2 separate regions of the Homo sapiens genome follow, and region 2 is linked to region 1. The links come from fine-mapping of genetic effects on gene expression. A gene starts in region 1. The other region holds a variant in brackets. All regions are shown on one strand. Distances are from middle to middle.

Region 1 (2,898 bases):
TAGAGACGGGGTTTCACCGTGTTAGCCAGGATGGTCTGGATCTCCTGACCTCGTGATCCACCCGCCTCGGCCTCCCAAAGTGCTGGGATTACAGGCGTGAGCCACCGCACCCGGCCAATAAAAATTCTTTAGGAACGCAAGCTGCAGCTCCAATATGAGGATGTGTTTGTTTACCTCCCATCCTTCCTCATTGTGTCTAATCAATAGCGTTTGGGGGGAAGAACACGGGATAAGGAGAACCTGAATGAAAAAAGCCTTAGTTCTGAAAATGAAAATGTTCAGCTATTAAAAGGTAAGGGCTTGGCCGGCTGTGGTGGCTCATGACTGTAATCCCAGCACTTTGGGAGACCCTGTCACATACATACATAAAGTTAAGGGCTTGATAGCTGGTACCCTCAACAACTCCCAAAGGGTAGAACAGCTATTTGGGGTTGTGGAAGTTATTCTTGGGGAGATAAGGGGAAGGTTGGGATGAGGAAGAAATGACTTGGAGTGCAGGTGTCAACATAGGGGAGAAACCTGAGGAAAAACAATGTCAGGACATGTTATATAGGTGAGCGTTGAACTGTCAAGACAGAAACTCCTGGCGTTTTCCGCTAAAATTGAAAGGAGCCCAGTGAGGTGTAGGAATCAAGGCCCGGAAGTCGGGGGAAAGCGCCTGAAGAAACTGTTGAATGGCATTTCCAGAACGGATCAGCAGCCGCATATGTGCAAGGAAGGCTGGCACTGTCCTCTGAGGGGGGCCCAAAGGGTGAGGGGCGGATAGGCTCCTGGCTAAGGAAGGTGAGGACTCGCGGGGTCTGGGACTGACAGAGGGGGGCGGGGTTGACCTGCAAGGCCAGGGGCTCCGGGACCCGCCTGCGGGTCGCAGGGTGGGGGCACGGGGACTGACCTGCTGGGCCCGCGGTGGCCGGGGCGCGGCCGAGCCGGCCTGGCGGAGGCGGGCGCAGTACTGGTCGGTGGCCTTCACGGCGTCCACTAGCCCCACGGCGCAGCGGCGCATCTGGCCGATGGTGTCGGCCGCCTCGATCAGGTCGCGGTACCGTTCGCCCACCATCTGCCGCAGCTCCTCCTTCTTGTGCTCGATCTCGGCCCGAACCTGGCGCTCCAGCCCGCGGATCTCCTCCGCTCCATGCGTCTCGAAAAGAGCCGCAGGGTCGCGCAGATCCAGCCGCTTCAGCGCGGGTGAGGTTGCCGCGGTGGCCATGGTGCACTCGTCAGCCCCCGGCGATCTACCTACGCCCTTTTAGTCCCGCCCCCTCCGCCATCTTCGTTGGGGGCGGAAGCGCTTCCGCCCCGCCGGGGGCCATGTTTGTTACCCGAGGGGGCGGGCGCGAGGGGGCGGGCGCGAGGGGGCGGGCGCGAGGGGGCGGGCGCGAGGGGGCGGGCGCGAGGGGGCGGGCGCGAGGGGGCGGGCGCGAGGGGGCGGGGGCGGGCGCGGGCGCGGGGGCGGGCGCGGTCCTGCGCGGGGTTTTCTTAAACGGAGCCGGCTGGGAAGTGAGGTCGCCAGAGAGGTGAGGTCGCCAGGTTGGCTGCGAAACTGTGGCTGAAGTCTTCCCTTTCCCTTAGGAGCAGAGCTTCTCTGTGGAGTTAGGTGTCGGGATCGGGCCCCGCGGACTGACGGCGTTGGCGCAGGCGCAGCCGCCGCTCTCCGCGCGCCTGGCGCCCGCGAGCAGACTCGGGCGCGCTCGCCGCCGCTGGGTCTCGGATCGCACCCCGCGTGCAGTTTTAGGAAGAGGGACATCCGCGCCCCTCGCTGTTCCCCGGGAAGAGCTACCACGCCGCCCCTGAAGGGGTTCTGAGCGCTTGTTTGGCGTCTGCTTTTCCTCTGCTGTTGATTCGTGTTGGAGGTTTTCCATTTCGTTTAAAACCGATGTTTAGCCCCTGAAGACGTTTTCCCTGCGAGAGCCTGACCTTGGTGGCCATGGGGGAGGAGGGCGGCGGGCTGGGCGGGAGAGGCTGGGACGCCCCGGGGAACGCAGCGCCAGACGGGTGGGCGCTCCTCACGTGGCCCAGGAATAGTAGAATCTGGAGATTGTGGCTTGTTTCTGCTAAGTCCCAGACCCTTCTTTTTTTTTTTTTCTGTTTTAATTTCTTTTGGAAGATTTCACCCACACCAGTGTCGACAAAATGATGCAATGTGCGCAGCGGCCATGCTGAGCCCCCAGCAACTCAGGGCCTACCCTGCATCCCTGCTCATTCCCTCTCCCACCCGCCACCTCCGGACGCACAGAATTTCAATCTGCAAATAAATGGTGCATTTATAATATTCCAGTTTAACCCGCAAGAGCCTTGCGGCGTAGGGAGTATCATTCTCACTTTACAGACTCATTTTACAGATGGGGAAACGGGGGCCCGGAGAGGCAAAGGGTTTTTTACTCAGTAAAAGTGCAGTTTTCAGAGCCTGTCCACGAGATTATCTCATTTTCTCGCACATCGGCCATGCCAGGTAGGTAGGAGTAATATTCCTAGTCCATTTATGAGGAAAAAAAAAAAAGAAACAAAAGCTTATTTACCTGCCCAAATTACATAGCTGATAGGTGACCCAGTGAGTATTTGGACGTCGATTTTTAAATTACTGGCTCGCGCTCTTTTCTACGTTTTCACATAATTTCCCACAGAGCACCCTCTGTTGGCAGGCCTGCAGTTTGCAGTCTCTAATCCCATTCTGCAAGGGACACTTACTGGTATTCGGCTGATAAGCATCCGCAGTATCTCCTTTCTGTGATTGGGGAATTCATCGCTATCTAGCAAAATCTTTTTTTCTGGCGCCCTTTATAGCTACGGTGCCAGCCTGCGGCCTGGGACTGGCACAGCAGGCACAAGCGCCTAGGACTTGGGTGAAGAGTTAGTGACATTAAGAAGCAGGCTGTAATCCCAGCACTTTGGGAGCCCAAG
Region 2 (2,898 bases), 630 kb after region 1:
TGAATTCTTTAGCCAATGAGTCTCAAGGGTGGCCGGGTACCCTGACTAACAGGGTAGCAGGGCTTGGCCATGAAACTGTCCTGGTGCAAGGAACTGGGGCTGTGCTGGTGAACTCCTGGCCTCTGATCTCTTCTCTTCCTCCACTCTCAAACTCCACATCCTGGAAATCCTTGAAGACTCTTCCATTCTGCTCTTGGACCTGCCTGGCACATGGCTGCTGCTTATGGATGATTTGTTCCCTTGAGTGGACTTCCAGGCTCGAGTTCCAGTGAAGAATTTTTGGGAGATACTCAAAGGAGAAACGAATCTCTAGGCTTGCCCAGTGGCCCTGGGGCACCCTCTTTCCACGCCATCCTCCATCCCCAGCGATGCTTGGCTGTAGTCCATCTTCCTCTTCTCTGCCCCTGCATTTCCATCCCAGGAGGACCACTGGGCACAAGGAACATCAGAAACCAGGGAGCAGTGTGCATTGGGATTCCTTCCAGACGCTGAGAGCTGAGAAGTCGTCCCCCTTTCATAACCTTGCTCAGGCTCAGGAGGTCTCAGTGTTAAGCAAACAGCCCTTGAAAGAGAAAAGCCACATTGTCCTCCCCATGCTGATGGCCTGGCCTCAAGAGCCACCAGTTGCTCTGACTTGAGAATGGTTAAGTGGAACTGCCGAGTGTTTGTGTGTGTGCGTGTGCACACGAACACACGTGTGGTGGACGGCCCAGCTCTTATTCCAAGAGCTCTTCTTCTTTTTTTTTTTTTTGTTTTTGAGAGGGAGTCTCACTCTGTTGCTCAGGCTGGAGTGCAGTGGCATGATCTCGGCTCACTGCAACCTCCGCCTCCCGGGTTCAAGTGATTCTTCTGCCTCAGTCTCCCAAGTAGCTGGGATTACAGGTGCCCGCCTCCATGCCCAGCTAATTTTTTGTATTTTTAGTAGACACGGGGTTTCACCGTGTTGGCCAGGCTGGTCTCGAACTCCTGACCTCAAGTGATCCACCCATCTCGGCCTCCCAAAGTGCTGGGATTACAGGCGTGAGCCACTGTGCCTGGCCCAAGTAATTGCTTCTGTAAAGGGAGAGAGGGGACGGGAAACATCAGGGAGGTACGCAAGTTGCAAATGCATAATGCTAAGGCTGTTATGGTGGTCTTGGTGTGAAAACAGTGGTAGAAAATTTGAAAAGTTGACAGAGGCCTAGAGATGAAATACATTTGTTATCTTCTTGAAGCTCTGGACCAGATGTTCATATCGCGTTGGCAGGATGGAACCATTCCATGGATATTCTACGTATCTTCCTTCTTTCACTTTATAATAAGACCAATTTTCTATGTTGCAGCCTACATTGATAATTATCTTCAATGGTGCTTGAGGGCCAGTGAGTCAGTGGGCCATTGTTTCCTTAACCAGTCCTTAACTCTTGGCCTTTGAGTTCCAGTTTTTCACCACAGATTGCACTTTTGTGCCTTGCTTTTTTTTTTTGTTTTTGTTTTTTTTTTTTTTTTGAGATGGAGTCTCACTCTTTCGCCCAGGCTGGAGTGCAGTGGCACTATCTCGGCTCACTGCAAGCTCCACCTCCCGGGTTCACGCCATTCTCCTGCCTCAGCCTCCCGAGTAGCTGGGACTACAGGTGCCCGCCA[T/C]CACACCCGGCTAATTTTTTTCTTTTTTTGTATTTTTAGTAGAGATGGGGTTTCACCGTGTTAGTCAAGATGGTCTCGATCTCCTGACCTCGTGATCCGCCCACCTCGGCCTCCCAAAGTGCTGGGATTACAGGCATGAGCCACCGCGTCCGGCCTTTTTTTTTTTTTTTTTTTTTTTTTTTTAAAAAAAAGGAACATCTGAAGTGACTTGAGTCTCTGATCTGGCAGTCATAACCCTTATCCCGTTCCTTGAGCCCCAGGGAGGTTGGGAGAGGGGGAAAAAAAACAACTGTGCTATCCATTCTGGGTCCTCTTAGCCAGGGGTGTGGAGGCTGGGGAGTGAAGGGCGTCTATGGGATTGGTCAGTGGGCAGCGGCTTCCAGCTGTGGCGAGGGAGGTGTCAGCTTGCTGCTCTTGCTGTGGGTCTCACACTCTTCCTCCATCCATCCCCCTGAGCTTCGAAGAAGAGCTCTTATTATTAAAGCTGTCCTTGAAAAACTCTCTGCTTCTTGGGCATTGAGGAGCAGGTCCAAATGGGTCATCTTCTCCCTACCTTCTCCCTGTCTGTCTTCTCCCATCTGTGTCTTAGCCTTTCCTTCTTCTCTCCATACCTGCCCTTGGTGGGTTGTTTACCCCAGTTTCTCATCTTTTCTCATGAAGGAGGAGGAAGCACCCAGCAGCTGGCGTTTGCCAGAGCTGCAGGTAAAAGGGACCAGGTTACCACCAAGACAGGAGAGACGGGGCTTTCCAGGCAGAAATCCCTGAATCCCCTGGTCTAAGTGCTGAGTAAGCACTCGACTCCCTGGGGCCCTGAATGATGGAAGAGAGGGAGACTATTAGGGCTGACGCCAGACAGAATGCACGCTCGCAGGTGGATCTGACTTTTTGTGTTTTGTGGTTTAAAAATGTGCTTGCCTTCTGTAATCCCAGCACTTTGGGAGGCCAAGGTGGGAGGATCACTTGAGGTCAGGAGTTCGAGACCAGCCTGGCCAACATGGTGAAACCCCGTCTCTACTGAAAATATGAAAAAATAGCCAGACGTGCATGCATGCTCATGTGCACACATATGCACACCCCCCACCTTGCCTTTTATAGAGCCATGAGGCAGCAGATTCAACCGAATACCATGTAGCATGAGCCACAGACGTGTATGGGAACATTTATGAACGCTTGCCTATAATCCCAGCTACTTGGGAGGCTGAGGCAGGAGAATCACTTGAACCCGGGAGGCAGAGGTTGCAATAAGTCGAGATCACACTATTGCGCTCCAGCCCG

Direction of the effects. Positions count from the first base shown, and alleles are read on the strand shown. Sizes are in standard deviations (SD) of each study's normalised expression.
As copies of C replace T in region 2, the expression in tibial nerve of the gene that starts at base 1,222 in region 1 goes up (moderate effect, 0.54 SD a copy in GTEx).

What was found. PIP is the estimated chance that this variant, and not a neighbour inherited with it, causes the effect.
Region 2: its variant is fine-mapped to the expression of COG1 in tibial nerve (GTEx, PIP 0.99).

The regions. Positions count from the first base shown.
Region 1 is chr17:73,191,379-73,194,276 of GRCh38, reverse strand. It overlaps COG1 (component of oligomeric golgi complex 1), which reads right to left and starts at 1,222. Exons shown (of 14, transcript NM_018714.3): 1 at 893-1,222. The coding sequence starts at 1,207. RefSeq lists a silencer at 731-940 and enhancers at 991-1,270, 1,901-1,950, 1,236-1,995.
Region 2 is chr17:72,563,668-72,566,565 of GRCh38, reverse strand. All of the region lies in intron 1 of LINC00673 (long intergenic non-protein coding RNA 673), which reads left to right. Among named protein-coding and RNA genes, the nearest start is that of LINC00673, 28 kb to the left of the region's middle. The variant T/C (reference allele first, on the strand shown) is at 1,624.